5 linked regions of the Homo sapiens genome follow. The protein of the gene in region 1 purifies or fractionates together with the protein of each later gene. This does not show direct contact. Each region holds a gene or a part of one and is shown in the gene's direction. Other genes may lie near its edges. The genes, in order: TRIM59, HSD17B4, ANXA5, PPM1B and RAD23B.

What was found.
Region 2: the proteins of TRIM59 (region 1) and HSD17B4 purify together in Homo sapiens (affinity purification with mass spectrometry; one large-scale study listed by BioGRID and IntAct). This does not show direct contact.
Region 3: the proteins of TRIM59 (region 1) and ANXA5 purify together in Homo sapiens (affinity purification with mass spectrometry, with the first as the bait; one large-scale study listed by BioGRID). This does not show direct contact.
Region 4: the proteins of TRIM59 (region 1) and PPM1B purify together in Homo sapiens (affinity purification with western blotting, with the first as the bait; one study listed by BioGRID). This does not show direct contact.
Region 5: the proteins of TRIM59 (region 1) and RAD23B purify together in Homo sapiens (affinity purification with mass spectrometry, with the first as the bait; one large-scale study listed by BioGRID). This does not show direct contact.

The regions. Positions count from the first base shown.
Region 1 is NC_000003.12:160,439,787-160,443,286, reverse strand, and holds part of TRIM59 (tripartite motif-containing protein 59), read left to right. Parts: intron 1-3,500. UniProt on the Homo sapiens protein: E3 ubiquitin ligase involved in different processes such as development and immune response. Serves as a negative regulator for innate immune signaling pathways by suppressing RLR-induced activation of IRF3/7 and NF-kappa-B via interaction with adapter ECSIT.
Region 2 is NC_000005.10:119,496,990-119,501,757, forward strand, and holds part of HSD17B4 (peroxisomal multifunctional enzyme type 2), read left to right. Parts: intron 1-2,327; coding exon 2,328-2,564; intron 2,565-4,768. UniProt on the Homo sapiens protein: Bifunctional enzyme acting on the peroxisomal fatty acid beta-oxidation pathway.
Region 3 is NC_000004.12:121,674,955-121,681,425, reverse strand, and holds part of ANXA5 (annexin A5), read left to right. Parts: intron 1-617; coding exon of another isoform or gene 618-670; exon of another isoform or gene 671-2,931; coding exon 2,932-3,011; intron 3,012-3,475; coding exon 3,476-3,532; intron 3,533-6,471. UniProt on the Homo sapiens protein: This protein is an anticoagulant protein that acts as an indirect inhibitor of the thromboplastin-specific complex, which is involved in the blood coagulation cascade.
Region 4 is NC_000002.12:44,173,889-44,180,359, forward strand, and holds part of PPM1B (protein phosphatase 1B), read left to right. Parts: intron 1-6,471.
Region 5 is NC_000009.12:107,326,895-107,332,070, forward strand, and holds part of RAD23B (UV excision repair protein RAD23 homolog B), read left to right. Parts: intron 1-2,648; coding exon 2,649-2,762; 3' UTR 2,763-5,176. UniProt on the Homo sapiens protein: Multiubiquitin chain receptor involved in modulation of proteasomal degradation. Binds to polyubiquitin chains.

The DNA.
Region 1 (3,500 bases):
AGATGTTCATCCTAGAAAATATACATAGGTTAATTTTTTGTTCTTTTTCTTCCTTTCAGAAGCCTAGACTGGTTGTGGAAAATTTCTGCTGCATAAAATTTCATATTGGTTTCTGAAAGAACTAGCCTGTAAGCATGGTAGCCACCTGTATCTTTTTTTTTTCTAAAAAAGGCAGGGTCTTGCTCTGTTGCCTAGGCTGGAGTGCAGTGGCACAGTCGTGGCTCACTGCAGCCTCAACTTCTTGGGCTCAAGTGATCCTCCTGCCTCAGCTCCCCGCGTAGCTGGGATTATAGGCGTGTATCACTGTGCCTGACTAATGTTTAATTTTTTGTAGAGAATGGGGGTCTCTTGGTGTTGCCCAGGTTGGTCTTGAACTCCTGGCTTCAAGTGATCTTCCCACCTTGGCCTCCCAAAGTGCTGGAATTACAGGTGTGAACCACTGCACCTGGCCCACCTATATAGTTTACTTCTCAGGCAGCAACCAGAGTCAGAAAGTTCCTGACCTTACAAAGTTATTTTTCAGTTCTAGTTTCTCTTGAATTTGTTGCCTAAAATTAGTTTTTAATCAATAAATCAGTGAGAAAAGGGTAGTCTGAGAATAGATTTTGACTTCTGTGAACTTCAAGTTATCCACAAATTTTTGTCTAAAAAGTATTATTAAAAATTTTACATATGATAGCAGTAACTTTGAGACCAACCACGATTTTTGCTTCCTATTTTTTTTTTTTCCTTTTTTTGAGACAGAGTCTTGCTCTGTTGCCCTGGCTGGAGTGCAGTTGCGCCATTTCATGCCTCAGCTTCCCGAGTAGCTGGGATTATAGGGATTACAGGTGTGCGCCACCATGCCTGGCTAATTTTTGTATTTTTAGTAGATACAGGGTTTCACCATGTTGGCCAGGCTGGTCTCAAACTCCTTGCCTCAAGTGATCCACCTGCTTTGGCCTGCTTCCATTTTATATAAGCTTAGGATATGCTTTACAATGTCATGAATATTCTCATTCTAAAGAAAGTTGAGCTTTTGGGCCCCTAAGTGCATTCTCAGAGTTGTTCCCTAGTTTTCTGCAAGCATAGAATAGGGGTTTGGATAGAAAAGTTAGATTCTGTTTTAGGACTAGTTTTGCTACTTAAACAATTGAATAGCTCCAGTAATATTAAATCTAGATTAAATGTACGTCGACTGCTCAAATTTTATTTCCTACAAAGTGTTATTCTGTTTATTCCTTCAATGTGAATTCTGACATCACTGAAATACTCTGAAAAACACATTTGTTTTTCTTGGGTGGTTTCTGTATGACTTCATAGCTTTCTGTAGGTGTAGGGTAAAGTTGTAAAGTCTTGCCAGCATGCACTCACTTGAATTTATCTGCAGTGAATGTCATCTTCTTTACTGTTGCTCAATTACTTTAATTTGCTGGAATGCTCTACAGTTCAAGCTTAGTCTCTGTGTGACACACTTTGGCTCATTCGGGATCTGAATATTGTCAGTTTGAATGGAGTGCTTTTTTTCTTTTTTCTTTTTTTTTTTTTTTTTTTGAGATGGAGTCTCACTCTGTTGCCCAGGCTGGTGTGCAGTGGTGTGAACTTGGCTCACTGCAAGCTCTGCCTCCCGGGTTGACGCCATTCTCCTGCCTTAGCCTCCCAAGTGGCTGGGACTACAGGCGCCCACCACCACACCTGGCTAATTTTTTTGTATTTTTAGTAGAGACGGGGTTTCACCCTGTTAGGCAGGATGGTCTCAATCACCTGACCTCATGATTCACCCACCTCGGCCTCCCAAAGTGCGGAGATTACAGGCGTGAGCCCCCGCACCTGGCCTGAATGGAGTATTTTCTGATAGATTTTCGTTTTACACCTTTTCCTAAGCAGAGATTTTGCTATTAAAAAAACAAAAAACAAAAAACCCCAAAACAAAAATCTGTATTAACACAGGTCTCTGAAAAGGCATTTGTTCATTGAAGCAGTAACAAGTGAATGCCTGCAGTGTTAAAATTTGTGCCTAAATTGCAGGAATATAACCATTGTTTAGACACAATTCCTGCCCTTATAGGAGGCCTACATTCTAATGTATACAGAAAAGTTACAAAATTCTTAAATAAAATCTTGTTAAAGTGCTATGAAGTAAAAATGCAGTGTTTAATGAGAATAACAGGGGACCTAATCTGGGGAAAAGGCAGGCTCAAGTTGAGCCTTGAAGGAAGAGTTAAGAGTTTGACAGATCGTAAAGATAAGGAGCCAAGTTTGCATTTTATTAAAAATGCAGTTAGTTACTTTTAGTTGCTGTTTTCACAGATTTTTAATCTTAAAAGTTAGTTTTATAGCATGTGATTTGGTAACCTTTATATTTTACGTGAATGGCACTTGGGTGTTTATTTTTTTTGAGACGGAGTTTCGCTCTTGTTGTCCAGATGAGTGCGGTGGTGTAATCTTGGCTCACTGCAACCGCCACCTACTGAGTTCAAGCAATTCTCCTGTCTCAGCCTCCCAAGTAGCTGGGATTACACGCATTTGACACCACACTGGGCTAATTTTGTATTTTTAGTAGAGATGGAGTTTCTCCATGTTGGTCAGGCTGGTCTCAAACTCCCAACCTCAGGTGATCCGCCCGCCTCGGCCTCCCAAAGTGCTGGGATTATATGCGTGAACCACTGCGCCTGGCCATGGCACTTGGGTTTTTAAGTTTTGCCTAAGGTACTTTCAACAGTGGTATAACTTGATTTTTCTCTATCAAGGGGTAAGCTAGTCTTTAGAATTGTGGCTGATGCATTGAGGGTAGGTATAAAGGAAAGCAGTAGGAGGTGGTAGGGTGCAAAATGGTCAGGCTTCTGTTACTGGAAATATCAGTAGTAGCTTGCCAAGAGGTCAAGTTACTTGTGTCAGAGATGGTCTCTGAACTATCGCTACGTTTCTTTTTCTGTCTCAGAGAAATACGGATCGAGAGACTTTCATGAAGGAAAGATGACTAATGGTCTTCTTTTTGTTCTTTACCATTTAGTGCTCTAGTTTTTCACTTAAAAATTAATTCACAGTTACTATAGTCAACTCTTATCTTTCAAACTGATTTTTATTATAAGAATTAATTCAAAATTTTTCTGTCTTCTAAATCTGCAAGTTAAAATTATTGCTTTAGAGAATTATACTATGCTGATCCTGGGGTTTAAGCGTTCTTGTATTCTAATTTGAGAAGCTAAAAAATTTATGGTAGTAACAGTTACTGTGGAGAAATTTGATAGCTTGCTTTAGAAACCATTATTGAGCCAACTGGGACATGTTTCCTCCTTTTGTGTTAAAGAATATACTTTTGCTAAGCCTAACTTGTTGTAATAGAAATAGTCTTGTCTACTCATTATATGTGCTTGGTTTTGATTTTATCATCTTAAATGTTAAAATGTTGCACAAAATAGTTGTAATCACTAAGTAGACTTTAACAGAACACTTTGAATTTTAGTCTTTATTATGTAGTGTATTAGTCTGTTTTCATGCTGCTGATAAAGACATACCTG
Region 2 (4,768 bases), on another chromosome or scaffold:
TCTGGACTGTACCCTGCATTTCTTTTCCCTAATGGGAAAGGAGATCAGAGCGATTGGGTATCAGTTTCCAAGGTTTTGCCTAGTAGCCGAGTGGGGCTTGGAGAATGGAGGTAACCCACTCAGCTTCTTCTCCTGGTTGGAAACAGAGCTGCTGAAAGCTTATCATGAACTTTTTAGAGGGATACTCCTTACTTGCATATAATTTTTGGTAGGCTCCATTGGGGGGTGTGATGAATCAGGTTAGCTGCCTGAGTGGTGCTTTAGCCAACCTCATTTTTACCCCCTGCAATGCTGTTTGGAAATTGACTCAGGGAGGTACTGAATGGAAGAGGAAAAAAGGGAGTAGTACCTCAACTGTTGATAAAATGAACTGTGGCTAAACTGATATCTAGTCCAGATATGTATGCCTGCCTGGACTGTCTGTCTTCCATATACAGTTCTCATTCTACCCGTTCATAGTTCTTTATCTCTTTAAGGATAGCTTTAAATTGACTTTAAGTAGATTTGAGTTGTGTGGGAATTTGTATTTGGGAGGGGAGACTATGACACCATGACTTCTGGAGGTTATATGCTCCCAGGTTCTTTGTTGTGTTTTTTACCCCTTTACCTAATGCCCATAAGGCTTTAAACCTCTATGTTGAAAGTGAAGTGCCTATAATCAGCAAAATTTTGTTTGAAATGTAAATAATTTTGAAACTTTTTTCACATACAAAAAAATTATTTTCTAAGCTATTTATTGCTAAATGAGTGATGATAAAACTGTATAAAATATGTACTAAATATTGATAGAATTTGAACATAAGCTCAGATATTAAACTTTTGCTTTTTCTTTTTCAGTACCATTAGATTTCTGTATCTAACTGTATGACAAGTATCATTTTTTTTTCTTGACCATCAGTAATCCTACTTTAGTAACATTTTCTGACTCTTTAGAAAAGGATATCTAGTTTAGTGCTCTTTTGGGTCCGTTTCTTTTAAGGGAAGCATCGATATTGTATTTTAGAACTATTTCAACATGGCTGCAAGTAAAATGCTTCCCATTGAGTCAGAAATTCGAGAACAATTGTGATAGCTCATGTGAAATTTGCCTATTTACTGTTCCTGTTTGTATTCTTTCTTAAAAAAACTGTACTGGATAAATAGGAAGAAGTAAATCATATGCCATATTAGATTCTGTTGTTTTGTAACCTATGGTAGGCATTGTGATAAAGAAAATTAAAATTCTAATTTTAAGCCTGAGAATGTGGTCAGTATAGAAATGTGATTTTTCCTCAAAATAAGGGTTGGCAAACCTTTTTGATGAAGGGCCATATAGTAAATATTTTAGGCTCTGTGGGCTACATAGTGCTTCTATTCTAGTACATATTCTTTCTCTTTTTCTTATTTTTAATCAACCTGTATAAACCATTTTAGCTCTTAGTCCTTGTTTGCCAACTTCTACTTTAGAATAAAAATGATTGAAAAATTGGACATTATTCTTTTATATGTACTTCACTTATTAGCTACGCATATTATCACTAAGTAGAAAAAGACAACATCCAGTTAGACAAAGGATATTCCTGGGAAGGAAATTCAAGTTAATTTTATTTTACTTAACATTATGAGGGACTGGGCGCAGTGGCTCACGCCTGTAATCCCAGCACTTTGGGAGGCCGAGGTGGGTGGATCACGAGGTCAGGAGTTCCAGACCATCCTGGCCAACATGGTGAAACCCTGTCTCTACTGAAAATATAAAAAAAAATTAGCCAGGCATGGTGGCACGGGCCTGTAGTCCCAGCTACTCGGGAAGCTGAGGCAGGAGAATTGCATGAACCTGAGAGGCAGAGGTTGCAGTGAGCCAAGATCATGCCACTGCACTCCAGCTTGGGCGAGAGAGCGAGACTCCATCTCAAAACAAACAAACAGAAACCATTATGAGGCAATCAAATTTACATCCATTAAGCAGTGTTTTACTCATCTGTTTACAGTGAACTTTATACATTAGATCTTACAAGCAATTTACTATCCTTAATAACAAATTCATTATTTTTTGGATTTTTGGGTAGCTAATAGTTGCTGAATTAGAGACAGGAAAGTTGAGTATGAGGCATACTGTCTGTTAGCAAGAAGCAAGCAATAAAAAACTTCTTAACTGTAAATGAAGTCCTTTTCTACACATTACCTAATTAGTTTCTATTAAAAAATAAAATATAATTGCAATAATTATGCTCCATCAAATTCACTAACATTCTAGTCACATCTATTCAAAAACAAAACTAGGTATGTAAGAAGTTAATAGTTTTGAAAAGTTATCAATGAAATAAATTACTTTTTAAAACTGTTCTTAGGCTGGAGCTATTGGCCAGAAACTCCCTCCATTTTCTTATGCTTATACGGAACTGGAAGCTATTATGTATGCCCTTGGAGTGGGAGCGTCAATCAAGGATCCAAAAGATTTGAAATTTATTTATGAAGGAAGTTCTGATTTCTCCTGTTTGCCCACCTTCGGAGTTATCATAGGTCAGAAATCTATGATGGGTGGAGGATTAGCAGAAATTCCTGGACTTTCAATCAACTTTGCAAAGGTATGCCTAATAAAAAACCTTTATTTTGCTTTTCTATTTCTGTAAATATTATTCATTAATGTCATATCTTATATATATGTGTGTGTAGTGTGTGTATATATATTTATATAATTATTTATAGTGGTTAGTTTAGCATATCTTTTGATTTTTCTTTTTAAGAATAAAAGAGGGGAGAGTTAGTTCAAAATGCCAGCAAAAAGAAGAAAATAACAAGTATGTGTAGTCCCATAACCCTGGCATAATGTTATTCTCTCTCTGCCATTTACTTGATTCTTGACCAAGGGTAAATAACATCTCTAGGCTTCAGTTTCCTTATCTATAAAATGGATATGATAATCCTCACCTCATGACATTGGTGAAGAAGCAAGCCAGGGAGGAGTATTTAAAGCAAATAGCACATACTTGACTTGTTTTTGGAACAGTAATAGGGCCAGCATAGCTGTAGAGTGAGCAAGGGGGCAATGGTAGGAGAAGGTCATGGAGTAATTGTAAAGATTTCAGCATATACTTTGATGAACATGTGAAGCCATTTGTTGATCTGAGCTGAGTAGTGACATGATCTGGCTATGTTCACAGACTGGTACAAGCTTGTTGCTTTTGGAGACTAGGTTATAAGGGAGTCAAGCATGAAAGCAGAGAAACCACTTAAGAGTCTATTATAGTAATCCAAGTAAAAGTGCTGCATATGAGGGTTAGAAAAGAGGAGTCAAGGATGAAGATGTTTGTTCTGGATAATTGGGATATGTATATATATATAGAGAGAGAGATGGGTGCATATATATACATTGTATATAGTTATACATTGTATATAGTTATACATTACACATATCTATATGTAATGTATAATTATGTATAGTGTATTTAATATGTATAGTAATTACATATGGCATTATGTATAATTTATACATACACATTTATTTTAAGGTGGGGTTGATCAGGAGTTGGTTTTAAATATGTTTGAGGTGTCTGTTACACATTTAAGTGGAAATATAAGATGGACAGTTGAATATATGAGTCTAGAGTTCAGGGAGGGGTCTAACTGGGTCCTTAGCATTTACGTGATGTTTAAATACTGGAGATTAGATGAAGTCACCTAATGTGTGAGAGTAAGTAGAGAAGAGGCCTGAGTTTAGAGGCCCTGAAATGTTGAGAGGGTAAAGAGATACAGAGGAACTAGCAAAAAGAGACTGCACAGGAATGGTTGGTGAGGTATGAGGAGTATCATGAGAATAGGGTATTTGAGAAGCCAAATGAATGAAGTGTGTCAAGAAGGAGGAGGGAACAGTGGTGAGAAGTTCTTTGAGACAGGGTATATTTTATTTCTTGGAGTAAGATTCAGGTTATGAGCCTGGTAATAATTTTTGAATCATGGGGCTATGAGCTGGTATCTGTAACTTTGACTGATTGGAGAACTTATTTACTGGTGGATCAGTTAGCCCATTGCTGCTCTGAGTTGATGGCCACTTATTTTATTAGAGTGTTTCATGAAGTTGGGAGGAAGACAAGAAATATGTGCTGGGCAGTTTGCTGTTTCATTCACACTCCCATGGTTAGTTACTATATACTCTGAACAATGTAAATGCAAAAAATTAAAACAAATGTTTCAAAATTCCCCCTAACAATTGGAAATCGTAAATGGTGTTCATGCATCTTGGAACTTGAATCCTAGTCTTCTTAACCTTGACTTTTTCAAGCCGTATGACACAGTAAAGCTGACCTTCATTTGTCTTCTCATCAACCACCTCCCCTTCTTCTTCTTCCTTTTTTTTTTTTTTTAAAATCCTTTTGGGTTCTGAGGAAGACTGGTAAACTGGCCCTCTGCAGTGAAAGTGGGATCATTTGAGTGTATGCTTCAAGTTTTGGTTTTCCTGTCCTGTTGTTTTCCTATATACCTTGGTGCATTCTTTGTTTGATACATTGAGGTTAAGTGGCTATTAAGTTACACAGTGTCCTTAGTATCTACTCTTTGTAGATAATTTACAAAGTATTATAAGAAAGGGATATTCACATTGACAGTGCTTTCATTTTGAACATGGTTGTAAGGTTTTTCTTTGTGTTTTAGTTGTGTCGTTTGTATTTGGTATATGTGACCTGAAATTACTAGCACTGGCGCATTTGTTCATTCTTATTCAATGAATATTTATTGGATGCCCAATATGTTCCAGGCACTGTTATAAGTTCTGGGAATACAGCCTAGTTTATTG
Region 3 (6,471 bases), on another chromosome or scaffold:
TAGGATTTGCAATTAGTGTAGGGATATACAGGTTGTCTTTATGTTAACATTAAGGTAAAAATGGTTTTTCCTCCTTTAAAAATATTTAGCTTTATGCTAGCAAAATTTAGGAGTTATATAAAAAGTACTTTTGGAACTTTGGAAGAGAAACCTAAACCCTTTCCCACATCAGAGTTGATAAAGTACATTTGAGTAAATGTATGTTGTCTTAGCTAATGGCAGTGCTTGAATAAAATATTCTGCATTTTGATTTTTCTTTTTAGTGTGTCTTTTATATGAACAGAAATCTGCATTTCGGCCTAAAATATGTCTCATGAATAGAATCAAGAAAATGAAGTAAAAAGTAGAGGTAGAGAGTCCTTTTCTTACCAGATTTCTTGTAGCCAACTCTTTCTCCTGCCTGACTGAGGAGGGTCAGACTATCCAGTTTCTCAGCTCAGTCAACAGACTCCAAGCCTAGTGTCTTTTGCTAGGGGCTGTATCTTGCCATTAGTTTGTTAATCTTAGAAATGGCTTTGTTAACCCAGCAAGTCAAAACAGCAAAAAATTGTTTAGAGCAACTGTATAATTACCTTTCTAAAGGGCTGAATCTCTCTTTCCTGCTTCTCTTTTTATAGGCAGTAAGTTCCCAACCGCTAAGGCAGAAGTGATACATGTATCTCAACTTTGAACTTTATTTGATGTACTATTCAAAGATCTCTTTCTGGGGATGTTGACGTTGATGAGAGCCTTTGTGCTACTGGATTACAAATGGTGTGCTCAAAGGGGGTAATAACTGTGTGGTCTGTCCTACTCAGCCGTGTAATTGAGCACTGGCTATGTGTCTGGCAGTGTGTTAACAGGCTGTCATGAGTGACAAAAGGTGTGCATAACACAGCTCCTGTCCTCAAGCAGTTTGTGTGCAGTCTCCTCAGTGGGTGACATGACAGAATGACTGCAATATTTAAAGGATAATGAAATTCAAACTAAAGTAAAATACCAATGATGTTAAATGCAATAATGCATTCAGAAGAGAGAGGTCATCATAGCTTTGGATGTTAGGGAGGCTTCATGGTACAAATCACACATGCAGCAGAGTTTCAAGACTAGGTGGGTTTACAAAGTGTCCATTGACAGATGAATAGATAAAGAATACGTACACACACACACACAAACACAGACACACACACACAGGAGTACTGTTCAGTCTTAAAGAGGGGAAATCCTGTCATTTCAACATCATGGATAAACGTGGAGGACATAATGCAAAGTGAAATAAGCTAGGCACAAGGCATAAGCTATGCATGATCTCACTTCTTATGTTGAATCTAAAAAAATTGAACTCATAGAAACAGATAGTAAAACAGTGTTTGCTAGGGTGTAGGGGTGGGGTGAATGGGAGAAGGGACTGGTGAAATATTGGTCAAAGCATACACGATTTTAGTTAGGCAGGATGAATAAGTTCTGGGGATCTCATGAACAGCGTGGTGACTATAGTGAAAGTATAACTATTATATGCTTGAAATTTGTGAATACAGTATATTTTAAATGTCCTCACCACACACAAAAATATAGACTATATGAAGTGATGGATATGCTGATTAACTTGATTGTGGTAATCATTTCACAACGTACACATATATGAAAACATCATGGTGTATACCTTAAATATATACAATTTTTATTTGTCCATCATAACTCAATAAAGCTGGGAAAAAAAGACTAGGTGCATTTTGAGTAGGTAGAAAAGATATTTTTGGGTGAGGTACTGCCTGTCTTTAATGGCATGGAGACTGGACTGTGGAGAGTGTATTGAGGGACGGAGAGGGCCTGGCTGCTGTGGAGGATGTGTGCATGTCCATTGTGGGAGGTAAATGGAACAAGCGAGGTTAGGCTCAGATATAGATGGTTTTGCATGACTGGATTAGGAATTTGGACTTAATTCACAGGCACTGTAAATTCCTGAATGAGCAGTGGAGTGCTGAAGGAACAATTGAGGGAGGAAGGAGATTTGAATTGAGAGGCTAATTGGATAGTTATGTGTGTGGGAGGTAAGCTAGGTATTTAGGAATTGTGGCCCAACCTAGGTGAGTGAGAGGTGTGAGGAGGATAAATCAGGGACAGGAGAAACGTGATAGGATTTAATGGTTAATATTTACAGGTGTTGGTGTAGAAGAAAGAATTAAAGATTCCTACAAGGTTTTGTATTTGGGTAACTTGTTGAAATAAACATGTAACTCTTCTGGGCCTTTTAAAATAGAAGTTTCAGGCTTTTAAAGTTCGTTTGCTTTTGCATAATAATTAAATATTTAAATACCTTAGAGTAAGGCCTCCTTTCCTTTAATAGCATCTGTTTGAGAGTAGTGAGAAAGACTTGTAGACTCTTGTAGATCCCAGTTCTCCCCTTTTATATGGGCTTACATTGAGCAGCTGGAAATAGAGGTGGGAGGGGGGCCTACTTTAAAATATCATTGCTGTCTCTCAAGAGTTAACTTTATTTCTGCAGAGGAAAAATACCTTATTAGGAGTGATGGCCATGCCCAAAGAAATAAATCTCAGAATATTAGAGATAGAAGACATTTGGAAGCTAACCATATAAAAGATTTGAAAGAAAGCAAAACAGAGTTTAAGCTTATGATTGATTGTGTTTTGGAGACTTTCCAGTACCATCATGTATCTATAGATTAATGACTACATTGGTCGAGAGAATTTCTAAATGGCTGAGTCTTGATTTAAGTTTGAATTGAGTGCCTTTGGGAGACTTTAATTCATTTTTGTCCAACCACTCACTGAAAGCATTTGCTTAGAGCATTCAGAGATGGAATAGAGGGAATTTATGTTAACCAAATATAATTATTTCTTCTTTTACATCGCTTTCATTTGATTAATGGGGCAAGATTACTTTTCTAGTTGAAAGAAGATGTAAATAAGTATGAAATTATTTTGTTGCAGAATATGGCTCAAGCCTGGAAGATGACGTGGTGGGGGACACTTCAGGGTACTACCAGCGGATGTTGGTGGTTCTCCTTCAGGTATTGCGTGGAGATTAATTACAGTTTGATTAAAAAGCCTGAAGTTGGACTGGGCTGAATCTAGTTAAGTAAGGTCACTTAAAATTCTTTTAATAATTTGTGGTACTTGCTGATTCTTACTGCGATGATTCTGACTGTATGTTGCCTGTGCTTGTTTGTGTTTCAGAATATCTGGTCTAAATTCTTAACAGCTAACTCATACATGTTTTAGATAGTAGTATCTTGTTCCTTTCATAGAATGATAGCGGTATCTTGTTCTTTCATAGAATTTAAAATCAGTAGGGTCATTATTGGTTTTGGACAGTGCTGGGTGATGATAACGTGAAATAGTGCAGGATTGATCTTAATAAAAGCATATTATTCCTAGAGAAAGAGTGTTATTGAATAACCATCAGGTGGAACCATTTTTCCTTTTGAATGAGAATGCTCTATAGTTCAGTAATGTGACATATTACCTCTCATAGGCTAACAGAGACCCTGATGCTGGAATTGATGAAGCTCAAGTTGAACAAGATGCTCAGGTGAGTGACACCAGGATATGATGACTTTATTATGCTGTAGAAATGAAGAAATAATTCATGGTAATGAAAAATCACAATGTATGTTGTAATAGCTTCTAGTGATAATCTTGTTAATGGGTTATTTACATAGCATAAGACCTACATAAGTAGCTTTTTCTTATTCTGACCTGGTCAGCAAAATATTTTACCTTAAAGCTGAAACGAAATAAAATAAATTATATAGTGAGTTCCAACTAGACATGTTTTTTTTTGTGATTATTGAACATTCACAAAATAGAGAATTTTACCAAAAAACAGTGTTATTACTTCCACTGCCAATTATGCAGTGGGTCTCTTAGCAGGAGAAGATAAAGAAGAAAGAATAAAGTATTTAACAGTAAGTGGTGTTTAATTACATAAGAGATGACAAGTTATTTTGGTATTAGGAAATTTCTCTGCATTTCCTTCGACAGAATTTTAAGTAGGATTGGTCTTCTGTCAGCAGCTTTTTAGTGACTCCAAATGAAAATTTCCTCTTAAGTGACTTATAAACCCCTATAAAGTCTCAGTCTGGTTAATAAAACAGTTATTAAAATATAGGAAAGGAAATTTGAAACATGAGAGCTGAAAACTGGAAATTGGTAATAAAGGAATTACTTGGGTTCCTAGAACCACCAATCATAGACCTCTTTCTGGTCACATGTTTCAATTAAGAGAATATACAATTCTTGGTTGTTTGTCATGTATCATTGAAAAAGGAAGAGCCATATTCATTCCTCCAGTGGAACAACCCATGGATATGCGATCTCACTTTGCTAACAGGAAAGAGGAGAGCGGTTATTCTTTTGGGTAGGTTGATTTTATAATGGTTTCAGAATGCTGTCATCTCTGTCTAGCTGGAGAGAAAAAAAGAACTGAATGTTTACCGAGGGCTCTCTGTGCAGTATTTGACTCTTGCTTCACTCTGTCTTAGAAAATGCAAGCCAATTGTGTCCAGCCCCTTCAGACTCTGGTGGTTCCATTGCCCTCAGGATAAAGTCCGGGTTCCTGAATGGGTTACAAGCCCCTTTGTTATCTGTGTGTTGTTTACTTATGCCTCCAGCCTCTCTCACATGCTCTCTCTGCCCTCTTGCCCCTCCCACCCCGCTTCACCTGAGTCCTCTTCAAGAGTCAGTCTTCAGCTTAGATACTTTAGAGTTAGGTGCCCCTCACAGGGAAAACCATACCCCCCCCCGCCCCCAGGCTTCCTGTCACAGTTCTTGCCACGTTCTCTGGAAGCCATCTATTTACTTCACTGCCTTCCTGGGCCCCCTGAGCTGTCAGTTCAATTGTATCCTCAGCTTCTGGCATAGAGTAGGTGCTCAGTAAATAACTGATGAATGAATGAGCACATAACTCTACCAGAAAGGGGCAATTTCCCTTTTATGGATAAAGAAACAAACCCATGGCTTCCACTGAATAGCAGTGGAGTTGGAATTCCTAACGAGGCCTGTCTGACTCCAAAGCTCTTTCTCTTTCACTAGAAGATAGTCAGTGTTATTGAATATTAATATTTCACTATAAGAATATTTCACTGTAAGATATTCAGTGTTCTTGAGTATTAGTGCCTTCCCTGATTTTCTCTATCATTAAAGGGCTTATTAAATATCAACTCAAGCATAGATCTAGCTTAATTCCACCTTCTTTCGGGAAGAGGGCTAGAGCAACCCTACAGAGTTGTACTCCTGTTAGGGGCTTTGTTCAGTACTGAGGTGATCTTACTGCTTTCCAAGCATTGGTTGTGGCTTTGCTAGGAGATAGTGCTGATTCTCTCATTCCTACTGTCAAGAGTAGGATAGGAGTTCTGGGAGCTTTTCAGGGTCACAGTGTAAGAAACCAACTCTAGTCCTCTCAGATGTCTGCAGTGAGGCCTGCATTCACAGGCAGAGGGCAGATTTCCCAGCATAGTTGGTGATGTAATGAGAGCATTGCTGCAGCACGAGGCTCCTGAGGGGAAAACAGTACATTTTAACCTTGTTTTCATTGATTTCTGTCCTTGGAGCACTTACTGGATAGCACTGCTGCTCAAACTTTCATGGGCATGTGGCGCACCTGGGACCTTTAATTGCAGATTCTGATTCTATGGGTCTGGGCAGGGGCTGGGAGTCTGGATTTTGAACATGCTCTCAGGTAATGCCTGCATTCTTGGTCCTTTGATTACTGAGGCTGTATAGGTGACACTTACGTGTCATGCAGTGGATATAACCATTCAGAACCCTGAGAGTACATGTGAGACTGTACATGTGAAAACTGCTTTATGGAGTTACTTTAAAGTATCCCTTGAATGGAATCCAAGCTTTTCTTAGCCTTCCAGTGACTAGGAGCAATACAGAACATGTTACACTGGCTATTATTTTTGATTCTTTCAAATGTATTATTATTAATTAATAAACCTGTTGAAAACAAATAATCTTTTGGCATTATAAAAAGGAACACACCAACTTGTACCTCGTAGCAAGGGCAGCTGGACTGTTATCACTAGTGAGAATTTGAGATTTCTTAATTGAGAGTAAGCTGAGACAGCTAAAGGGCTCTTTTATAAGCTTTTGCATTTTTGTCTCTACTGATACCTGGCACTAAGAAGATTTCTATTATTTGAGAGGTTTGATAAGCCATAGTGAGTCATTCACTTGGGAACTGAACGTTTTGTAGATAATCCACTTTTTAACATTTTTAATGTGTTAAATTGATTTAATACTTTTAATGCATTAAAACAGATTTACCTTCTTCCCCAGTAAATCCTTGTTTTATTCTTTCTCTGGAGGGAGAGTTGAACTCTTAGAGGAAAGAGGGAGAAGGAGAAGTAATCAGGCACTTTTTACTTTTACTGGGCATTTGCTACTGATTACCTGACACTGTTCAGTGCATTATCTTAGTTATATAATCTCCGTTAATGACTATATACACTGAGGCTGAAGAGG
Region 4 (6,471 bases), on another chromosome or scaffold:
GCCAAGATCACGCCACTGCACTCCAGATTGGGCGAAAGAGTGAGACCCTGTCTCGAAACAAAAATAATAATACTCTTTGTAATAACTTGTTTAACCTCAAGAACCTTGTAGCTTAATCAATTGTAGTATTTTAATTTGTTAGTTCATATATTATACATTTGACATGGTTTATAACATTTAAAACACACTTTACTAATTTAAAACTTTTGATTTATCACACAGTTTAATATTAACTTGTAAATATAAAATGGATTCAAACTTTTCTCTTGGAGAATGTTTAAGTATCATCAGTATTCTATTTTTTAGCTTTAAATTGATTCATTTCTTGAAAATTAAAAATCTTAAAGTTTAGAAACATAACACTTCTTGGAAAATTGTTTTGCATCCTTGTGAACAAAAGAAGATCCAGTTAAATCCGATCTCATACTTAGAGGAGACAGACAAACTTTGGAAGCCATGTATTGACTATTAAGGAACTTGTCTTTCTCTTAGAGATGGTACCAATTACTGGTAGTGATATAGGGAGGATAAGACTTGTCTCTAGGATTGCTGTGATTATTGTCTACGTAGAATGGCCTTCACTTCAGAATCAGTTGTGAATGAAAAGTACATTTGTGTGCTAGAAATAGGAAAAAACCTTGTCTTTTATAGAAAACTTTTAAAATGCAGTTATGTTATCAGGTAGATTCAAACGTATAATATACAAGAAAATAAAACAAATGAATAAGTGTTGTTTGCCAGAGAAGAAGCAGTTCTGATCAATAATATGTAGAGTAATTTGTAAGAGTTTGAAGGCTTGCGAAGCGCTTTTAAGCCTGAGAGTAATGTCAACTCATTTTTAAATCTAATCGCATTTTATTTTCTTGATTGTAGGTATCAAGAGCACTCCTCGCATTGAAAAGGGCTGGTTACTGGATGTTCTTATGAGTAGGAGAATCTAGAAGTGTCAGCATGGGTGTTTAACCTATTTGGGCAGTGTTTTTCCTTTTCCTTGTTCTGACTAAAGCATTTATCTCTGAGGTGGGGAAATGGCATTTTCTGTTGAACACAGGTGGCCTTTCTTAGTCCCTTAAAAAGAGGACATGACTGGGCCTGGTGGCTCACGCCTATAATCCTAGCACTTTGGGAGGCCGAGGTGGGCGGATTGTCTGAGCTCAGGAGTTCGAGACCAGCCTGGCAGCACGGTGAAACCCCATCTCTACTAAAATACAGAAAATTAGCTGGGTGTGGCGGCATGTGCCTGTAATCCTAGCTACTCAGGAGGCTGAGACAGGAGAATCGCTTGAACCCAGGAGGTGGAGGTTCAACCCAGCTGAAATCGCGCCACTGCATTCCAGCCTGGGCAAAAGTGAGACTCCGTCTCAAAAAAAACAAAAGTGGGGGTGGGGGAACATAATTAATTCAAAGCACTCCAAATGTTAAGATTATATAGGAGATTTTGTTGAGCTTTGGGAGGCTTTCTGCTTTTATTTACTCTGAGCTACCAACCCACTGAGAAGTAAAGAATTCAGAACAGTCTAATAGTATTTAGTCTGTAACCCTCCAGCCAATTCTTATGTTCACTGAGTGCCTTCTGTGTGCAAAGGCCCCCATTTCATGCCAGTATCTGAACAAAACAGACAAAATCCCAAATCCTTGTCGTTGACGATCTTGCATTCTGTTAACCAGCAACTCACAGTTTACATTACAGCTGAACTCCTTATGTGGCTGGCTTAAAAACTTGAGTGGAAGATTTGGGGTGTGTGTGTTTTGTACACTAAACTTAAAAGCTGTGATTAGAGCTTTACTATTTTTAACAAAAGGAAAGGAAGAGGTTTTCTGTAATTGGATAAAAACTAGACTGAAAAGAGGAAAGAGGAAATATTGTTGTGCCTTAGAGAAAGACATTGGTTTGAGATTTTTTTTTTTTTTTTTTGAGACGGAGTCTCACTCTGTCACCCAGGCTGGAGTGCAGTGGTATGATCTCGGCTCACTGCAACCTCCGCCTCCCAGGTTCAGACAATTCTCCTGCCTCAGTCTCCCGAGTAGCTGGGATCACAGGCATGCACCACCACACCTGGCTAATTTTTGTACTTTTAGTAGAGATGGGGTTTCACTATGTTGGTCATGCTGGTCTGGAACTCCTGACCTCATGATCCACCTGCCTCGGCCTCCCCAAGTGCTGGGATTACAGGCGTGAGTCACCATGCCCTGCCTGGTTTAAGATTAAAAGATGACCCAAAGAGAGAAAAAGAGATCCCTGCATTAGACAGACATGAGGGAAATTTGGGGCCTTCAGGTGTTTCCATTTACTGTACATCCTTGGATAGATGAGTTCCTGGAAAGGAGGATGGGAGTAAAGGTGGAACAATAGGAGAAGGGTGAACAGGATTTTTTAAGTCTGATTTAAATAATTGGGATATACCTATAAAATATATGTTGTCATTTATGTTTAAAAAGCTTTCTGTTCTTACGTGAGTATAGCTGAAGGATTAGTGGTTGACCAATAGTGCCTGGTACTGATTTGTAATGGCTACTTTTGTGCTCTTAGCAAAGATGGCTAATGGAGCCAATTTGTCTCTTGGTTTATTGTGCACAACTTGGTCTATATATTTATCACTGCTTCTCCTTCCATAGCTTTGTTGTATTACTTAACGTCGTGCCTTTGTTTTTTCTGCATGTGAGATGGGCGTATTGCACTTAGATGTGTGAAGCAGGTGCTTAATTTTTGCTTTCTGTTCTTTCTATTGCTTTCCTACTGAACCAGTTTGGTAAAGAGGCCTCTTCTTCAGTTTATACAAACATTGCAAACTTAAGCATAAAAGATCTTTCATCTTTTTGTTCTTATTTTAATGCTTGGTGGTCTTGTGCTTTCATTTATGAGTCAGTTTCATTTGATCTTCATTGCTAAAGTGAATCAAGATTGATTTTTTTAATTTTAAAGCAAATCAACCAACTGGCTGGGGTGCAGTGGTGCAATCTCGGCTCATTGCAGCCGCCACCTCCCAGTTCAAGCGATTCTCCTGCCTCAGCCTCCCAAGTAGCTGGGATTACAGGCCTGCGGCACCACGCCCAGCTAATTTTGTATTTTTCGTAGAGACGGGGTTTCACCATGTTGGCCAAGCTGGTCTCAAACTCCTGACCTCAGGTGATCTGCCCGCCTCAGCCTTCCAAAGTGCTGGGATTACAGGCATGAGCCACCGTGCCCGGCCTAGTTTCATTTTTAATGTATTTTTGTAATTCTGTTACTTTATCAAAATGCTGATATGCAAGAGAACTTGAAATTTTGGAATATATTAAATTTAGTACTGTAATTCAGACCAGATTCATTAAGTTGTTCAACATTTGGCCATCTATCTTAGATTTAAAAATAACCAAAAACAACCTTACTTGAATTTAAAAAAATTATCTCTTGTAACTGGTTTTGTTTATATAATCTAACATTTTATTAAGTCTTTGGTGGTTGCTAGTCCTAAACTTAAGGAAATTGAGTTTGTTTCTATTCATCTGTTCTGGAGTGTTTGGAATTGCAATGTGAAAGTGAAATAACCTTTTTTTTTTTTTTTTTGAGACGGAGTTTTGCTCTTGTTGCCCAGGCTGGAGTGTAGTGGCATGATCTCGGCTCACTGCAGCCTCCGCCTTCAGGTTTTAAGTAATTCTCCTGTCTCAGCCTCGTGAGTAGCTGAGATTACAGGCACGTGCCACCACGCTCAGCTAATTTTTGTATTTTTAGTAGAGACAGGGGTCTCACCATGTTGGCCAGGCTGGTCTCGAACTCCTGACCTCAAGATCTGCCCGCCTCGGCCTCCCAAAGTGCTGGGATTACAGACATGAGCCACCGCGCCCGGCCTACATGTATGTATTTCTAAATAGCATATAGTACTGTTTTAAGAGGTGTATGTACATGACCATATACAGAATTTTTTTTTTTTTTACAATTTGTTCTTGTCACTTAATATTTTTGCAGTTCTTTTTTTGTTCTAGTCCCTTTTTTCCATAGTATTGCATATATATTGCATAGTATTCCATTGTATGATTAGAACAGTTCTTTTTTTTTTTTTTTTTTTAATAAGACAGTCCGGCTCTGTTGCTCAGGCAAGAGTGCAGTGGCTCAATCTTGGCTCACTGCAGCCTTGCCCTCCCAGGCTCCAGTGATCCTCCCACCTCAGCCTCCCAAATACCTGGAACTACAGGCGTGCACCAACACATCTGGCTAATTTTTGTGTTTTTTTTGTAGAGATGAGGTTTCACCATGCTGCCCAGGCTGGCCTCTAATCCCTGAGCTCAAGTGATCCACCTCCTTTGGCCTCCTAAAGTGTTGTGATTACAGGCGTGAGCCACCACAGGCAGCTAGAACACATTTTGTCTAGTCTTTTTTGGAAGGACATTTGGATTATTTTTGTAATTTTAATCAATGGTCTAAAACCATTTACATGCCATATATATATGCGAGAATTTCTCTAGGGAGTAAAATGGCTGAACTGTAGGCCATCCTTATCTTATAGCCCTAACTAGATATTTCCAAAATTCTCTCCAATGTTGCTATACTAATTTATACTCCTACCAGTGGTGTATTTTATATATGTATATATATATATATATATATATTTTTTTTTTTAGACAGAGTTTCGCTCTTGTCACCCAGGCTGGAGTGCAATGATGCAATCTTGGCTCATTGCAACCTCCACTTCCTGGGTTCAAGCGATACTCCTGTTTCAGCCTCCTGAAGTAGCTGGGATTACAGGCACCTGCCACCACACCCAGCTAATTTTTTTGTATTTTTAGTAGAGATGGGGTTTCACCATGTTGGCCAGGGTGGTCTGAACTCCTGACCTCAGGTGATCCTCCCGCCATGGCCTCCCAAAGTGCTGGGATTACAGGCATGAGCCACCATGCCCAGCCAAAAGTTTCTGTTGTTTTAATTTAGTGCTGTCCTATATAAATGTAAGGTAATTTAAATTTTTCTAGTAGCCACATTAATAAAAAAGACATAGGCAAAGTTAATTTTAGTAATGTATTTTATTTAATCCAGTATTTCCAAAATGATTCAATATATAAACAATGAAGTTAATTAGATATTTTGCATTCTTTTAAAAAATATTAAATGGTGTGATTGGGCTGTGTCCCCACCCAAGTCTCATCTTGAATTCCCAGGTGTTCTGAGAGGGACCCCATGGGAGGTAATTGAATCATGGGGACAGGTCTTTCCTGTGCTGTTCTCATGATAATGAGTAAGTCTCATGAGATCTGATGGTTTTATAATGGAGAGCTTCCCTACACAAGCTCTCTCTTTGCCTGCTGCCATCTATGTAAGATGTGACCTGCTTCTCCTTGCCTTCAGCAGTGATCATGAGGCCTCCCTGGCCACATAGAACTGAAAGTCCATTAAACCTCTCTTTCTTTTGTAAATTGCACAGTCTTGGGTATGTCTTTATCTGCAGTGTGAAAAAGTACTAATAAATTAAATATTTAAAATCCATTGTGTATTTTACACTTACAGCAAATCTCTATTAGCATTAGCCTCATTTAACATTCCTACTAGCCCCGAGTGGTTAGTGGCTACTATACCAAACAGCAAAGCTCTGTGTTCTTGTCTGTGTTTGATATTGAGAGTCTCTCTCTCTCTCTTTTTTTTAATCTAAGGAGAGAGAAATGGTGTTTTATTTTGACTTTAATTTTCCATCTTCCTATTAGTTTTCCTAATGACAAAATCTTACAGGCATAAATATGGAATTACTTTGCCGTTGGAATGCAGGTGTTTATTTTGTTAATTGTGTTTAAGAGTTTTTAGATATTAGATATTAGATTTAGATGTTAGTGTGTCTATAAAATGATGGTGCTAATTAAAGACTTTAACCTGGCCGGGCATGGTGGCTCATGCCTGTAATCCCAGCACTTTGGGAGGCCGAGGCGGGTGGATCACCTGAGGTCAGAAGTTCAAGACCAGCCTGGTCAACATGGTGAAACTCCGTCTCTACTAAATATACAAAAATTAGCCAGGTGTGGTGGTGGGTGCCTGTAATCCCAGCTACTCAGGAGGCTGAGGCAGGAGAATCGCTTGAACCCGGGAGGCAGAGGTTGCAGTGAGCCGAGATCCTACCATTGCACCACAGCCTGGGCAACAAGAGCGAAACTTCGTTCCAAAAAAAAAAAAAAAAAAAGACTTTAACCTCAAGTCAACTCTTAAAATATTCCCCAAAATGTGTATTTGGATTGAAATGAATGCTTGGAAGGACAGTACTTGAATGGCAATAATAGGGGTAGGAACAAGGCAATTGCTTAATACTTAAGGGAAACAATCCTTTGTATGTATTTCTTTTCCTTCATATATTTCTCCCTTTGTTTTGCTTAATCTTGATCTTTCTTTCCTCACTTAGGAAGAGTTGGCTGAATGGATCTGATCTAGAGCCAAAGATGTTCTCAAAAAGGGCTACAGGGATAGACTGACTTTGGGAGTTGGGGATACTCTATGCCCATCATCAGGAAACAAAC
Region 5 (5,176 bases), on another chromosome or scaffold:
TCCTAAAGTGCTGGGATTACAGGCGTGAGCCACTGCACCCGGCCAACTTTTCTATTTCTTTTAGAGTCAGTTTTGGTGGTTTTTGACTTGGAATTTGTCTATTTTATCTAAGCTGTCTAATTTGTTGGCGTGCAATTGTACATATTTCCTTATAATCATTTTATTTCCTCTTTTGATAAAGTAATAATGTTCCTGCATTTATTCCTGATTTCAGTCATTTGAGTCCTAAGATATTTTTGTTTTTTCCCTTCAGTTTAGCTAAAGGTTTTAATTTTGTTCATTTTGTGGTGGTTGTTGTTAATGACAAAAATAACTTTGGGTTTTGTTGATTCTCCCTATTGTTTTTCTAGTCTTTTGTTTTGTTTTGTTTTAAGTCTCTCTAATGTTTATTTCCCTCTTGCTTGCTTCTAGTTTGTTCTTCCTTTTTTAGGTTAGGTTTAGTTTAGTTCTTTGTTTAGTTTTAGTTTAAGATTAAATTATTATCTATCTTTGTTAGCATAGATGTTTATAGCTATAATATTCCTTCTGCGTTTATGCTATAGTAGCATCCCATAAGTTTTAGTATGTTGTATTTTTGCTTTCTTTCATCTCAAAATGTTTTTTAATTTCCCATTTGGTTTCTAATTTAATTCATTCGTTATTTAGGATTGTGTTAATTTCCACAAGTTTATGAATTTCCCACATTTTCTCCTTTCGATTTCTAAATTCATTCCATTATAATCAGAGAATATACTTTCAATACTTTTCAACTTATTGAGGTTCGTTTTGTGGCCTAACATGGTATTTCTGAAGAATGTTCTATGTATACTGAAGAAGAATATAGTGTAGTTCTTATTAAGTGGTCTATAAATATCTGATAGATCTAGTTTGTAGTCAAGTCTTCTTCCTTAGCTGTTTTATCTATTATTGAAGGTGGAGCTGTAGTTGTCTCTATTATTGTTAATTGCCAATTTCTACCTTTAATTCTCAGTTTTTATTTTATGTATTTTGTGGCTCTGTTATATATAATTGTTGTGTCTTCCTGAACCCTTTTTATCATAAAATGCCTTTTGTCTATAGTAACAATTTTTATCTTAAATCTGTTTCCTCTGATATAGCCATTCTAGCTCTTTTTTGGTTACCATTTGCATAGTATATACCTTTTTCTATCATTTTACTTTCAACCTACTTGTGTCTTTGAATCTAAATTGTGTGTTTTGTAGAAGCAGGCAGTTGGATTGTACCCTTTACTTCACCTATCCTAGCTTTAATCTGGATAAAACCCAGATAACAAACTGATTTTTTAGTTTCTTCTGCTTTCATAGATGAATAGTTATTCGTGATGAATTGGGATTTTTGCCCAAATTTTAAGGGTTATTTCCAAATATAATCTGACACAGCAGTCTTTAACCTTTTTGGCACCAGGGACCAGTTACGTAGAAGACCTTTTTTTCTACCAACATAGGTGGGGTGGGCGCAGTGATTTTGGGATGAAACTGTTCCACCTCCGATCATCAGGCGTTAGTTAGGTTAGGAAGTGGGGTGGGGCGGTGGTTTTGGGATGAAACTGTTTCATCTCACATCATCAGGCATTTGTTAGGCTATCATACGGAGCACAGACCCTAGATCCCTCTCATGCACAGTTCACAGTAGGGTTCATGCTCATATGAGAATCTAATGCCGCCACTGATACAACAGGAGACGGAGCTCAGGTGGTAATTCGAGTGATGGGGAGTGGCTGTAAATACAGATGAAGCTTCACTTGTTCGCCCACTGCTCACCTCCTCCCGTGCGGCCCAGTTCCTTGCTCACCCACTGCTCACCTGCTCCTGGGCAGCCCAGTTCCTAACAGGCCAATGGCTGGTGCCAGTTCACGGTCTTGGGGTTTGGGACCTGTGATCTAACTCAAGGTGATTGAGACAATTGAGGAGGGTGACATTTGGCTGAGTTTTTAAAGGCTTTTAAAAGGAGTGAGTATTGTCACAAGTGATTTTTAATATAATAGACTAGGAAAATGAAATTAAGTAGCTGGTATTACCATTTAAAATGCTGTAACTGTTAAGCAGATAAAAATAGAACATTATCTTCAAAATGTACCATGTATTACTAATAATTGGTCACCTGTTTTTCTAGTATGGAGTGTTGAATAAAGCAAGGAGATTGAGAGTGATGTTTGATCCAAATGAAAGACATGAGTTGACATTAATAAATAAAACATAATTTGCTTTTAATTTAGAAATAGGTGAGGTGGTTAAACTATACTGCAGGTACTCTCATCCTTATCTTCACTCTTAATATACTAAAAGCCATTTGATTTACATATTTCTGTAGAGTCATTTATTTTTAAACCATAGCAGTTAGCAGCTAATTTTTAATTAGGCCAAAGAGTATTTGCATAGTATCTATTAAGCTTTAACTAGAAACAAAGACTTTTTTAGGTGATTAGTAAAGGAAAGGGTCTAGATTCCATCTAATCCCTTGGGTTGGGCAGTAAATCCATATTGATAGAGATGAATTCATGTAAAATTCTCAAGAGCTTTTTTGGGTTGCAGTATGTTTTTGAGTAATGATTTATCTTTAGTGCTATGCTGGAATCTATAATATGTAAATAAAATTAAATGTGCCATAATTGGTGTGTTGGATTTATATTTTTTTCCTTTTTCTTCCAGTTAAAGGCATTAGGATTTCCTGAAGGACTTGTGATACAAGCGTATTTTGCTTGTGAGAAGAATGAGAATTTGGCTGCCAATTTTCTTCTACAGCAGAACTTTGATGAAGATTGAAAGGGACTTTTTTATATCTCACACTTCACACCAGTGCATTACACTAACTTGTTCACTGGATTGTCTGGGATGACTTGGGCTCATATCCACAATACTTGGTATAAGGTAGTAGATTGTTGGGGGTGGGGAGGGAGGGATCTAGGATACAGGGCAGGGATAAATACAGTGCATGTCTGCTTCAATTAGCAGATGCCGCAACTCCACACAGTGTGTAAAATATATACAACCAAAAATCAGCTTTTGCAGGTCTTTATTTCTTCTGTAAAACAGTAGGTAACTTTTCCTAGGTTTCACTCTTTTTAGTGTACTAGATCCAGAAACTTAGTGTAATGCCCTGCTTTATATTTCTTTGACTTAACATTGGTTTCAGAAAGAATCTTAGCTACCTAGAATTTACAGTCTCTGTTTCATGGCAACACTGGATAATGGCTTTGTGAAATTTAAAAAATTTTTGTAGCGACTGTAAACAGAAATGCCAAATTGATGGTTAATTGTTGCTGCTTCAAAAATAAGTATAAAATTAATATGTAAGGAAGCCCATTCTTTCATGTTAAATACTTGGGGTGGGAGGGGAGAAAGGGAACCTTTTCTTAAAATGAAAATAATTACTGCTATTTTAAAATTTCTTGATCATTGAATGTGAGACCCTTCTAACATGATTTGAGAAGCTGTACAAGTATAGGCAGAGTTATTTTCCTGTTTACATTTTTTTTTTGTTTTGGGGAAAAAATTGGTAGGTGTCTAATTACTGTTTACTTCATTGTTATATTGCAGTAAAAGTTTTAAAACAACCATTGCATGTTTGCTTTTGATGTATCCCTTTGTGAAATTAGCACTTTTGGGGCCAATGGAGAAATGCAGCATTCACTCTCCCTGTCTTTTCCCCTTCCCTCAGCAGAAACGTGTTTATCAGCAAGTCGTGAGTCAAACTGCTGCCTTTTAAAAAACCCACAAAATGCTGATTCAGTTCAAAATTAATGCAAATGTTTCAAAACTGGGTTTCTGATATTTGTAAATGTGTTTCTTTATTAGATAAGAGTGTATTACCATTAAAGTCATTAGTATAATATTGCTTTCAAAAAGAAATGGTAGACAAAACTATAATCCAGCATCTTTTATTGCATTGGAAAGACTGGCAAAGTCTTTTGGATGGGTTGGGAGATGTGGCTGGAAAGTACTTTGGAAAATATACAATCAAGATATCTCATGGCATATTAAAAGAAAAATCTTAATAGCAGTGTTGGCTTTTATTTGGATTTTTTCATCTCAGTTTTTTCTGTGGAATCTCCTTCATTGGCATTGTTATTTAATCATAAACGGGGCAGATGTCTACTTGTTCAGTTTTTCAAATCTGTTTTCCTGAGTATAAATAAGAGTATTTAAAGAAATAATTTGGATTGCTTTTGTTTTTTGTTTCCTTTTTTTTAACCATCTGATACTAAGAAGATGAATTTGCACAGATTTCTCTGCATAATTTCTCAATATCTTTAGCACAGTATGGTGATGATGACTTTTAAGCATTTACATCACGTACTCATAACCTATTATGAAAATAAATGAAACTGGCTGGGTATGGTGGCTCATGCCTATAATCCCAGCACTTTGGGAGGCCGAGGTGGGCAGATCACTTGAGGCCAGGAGATTGAGACCAGCCTGACCGTCATGGCGAAACCCCGTCTATACTAAAAATACAAAAAATAGCCAGGCATGGTGGCGCACGCCTGTGGTCCCAGCTACTTGGGAGGCTGAGGCATGAGAATTGCTTGAACCCGGGAAGTGAAGGTTGCCGTGAGCTGAGATCACACCACTGCCATAAACATGACAGGCTTTTGGACTTTGTATTACCTGTATGTTTTATAATGGATCATGCATAATTTCTCAGGAGAATAAAATGAGAATTCATATATACGTTCATCTTTCAAGTCAGAGCAATGAGTTGGGAAAAGAGGTGGCATTTCTGATCGGATAATGGAATACTCTCATTTATTTTATGACATTCTCTGTCTACTCAGATCATAGTGAAAACTGGAAACAAAAAAAAAAAACAGCCTCTTCTTGGAAAGTGACAGCAGAAGGTGGCATGGAGCTTGTGTCCTTGGACAACAAATCTGGATATACTAGGATTAATTATCAGAAGACAGCTCAGGCCAAGTTTTGATCGTTCCATACAGTACCTTGTTTATCTGCTTCTTAAAGAATCAGCCGAGACACCATAAAAGAAATAGGCTTTTTGTGCCTTTTGCTGTTAATGTTTAATTTACAAACTGTTTTGGTAAATCTCTTAATGTAAGTAGCTATTTGACTTTGGAATTTTGCATTCGAGGTATACTGTCATTTCTTGAAATCTTTTTCTCGTTTAGTTGCTCTGTGGGAAATGTGAGGAAGCCTAAGTTTGTATTTGTAAATTTCTTATG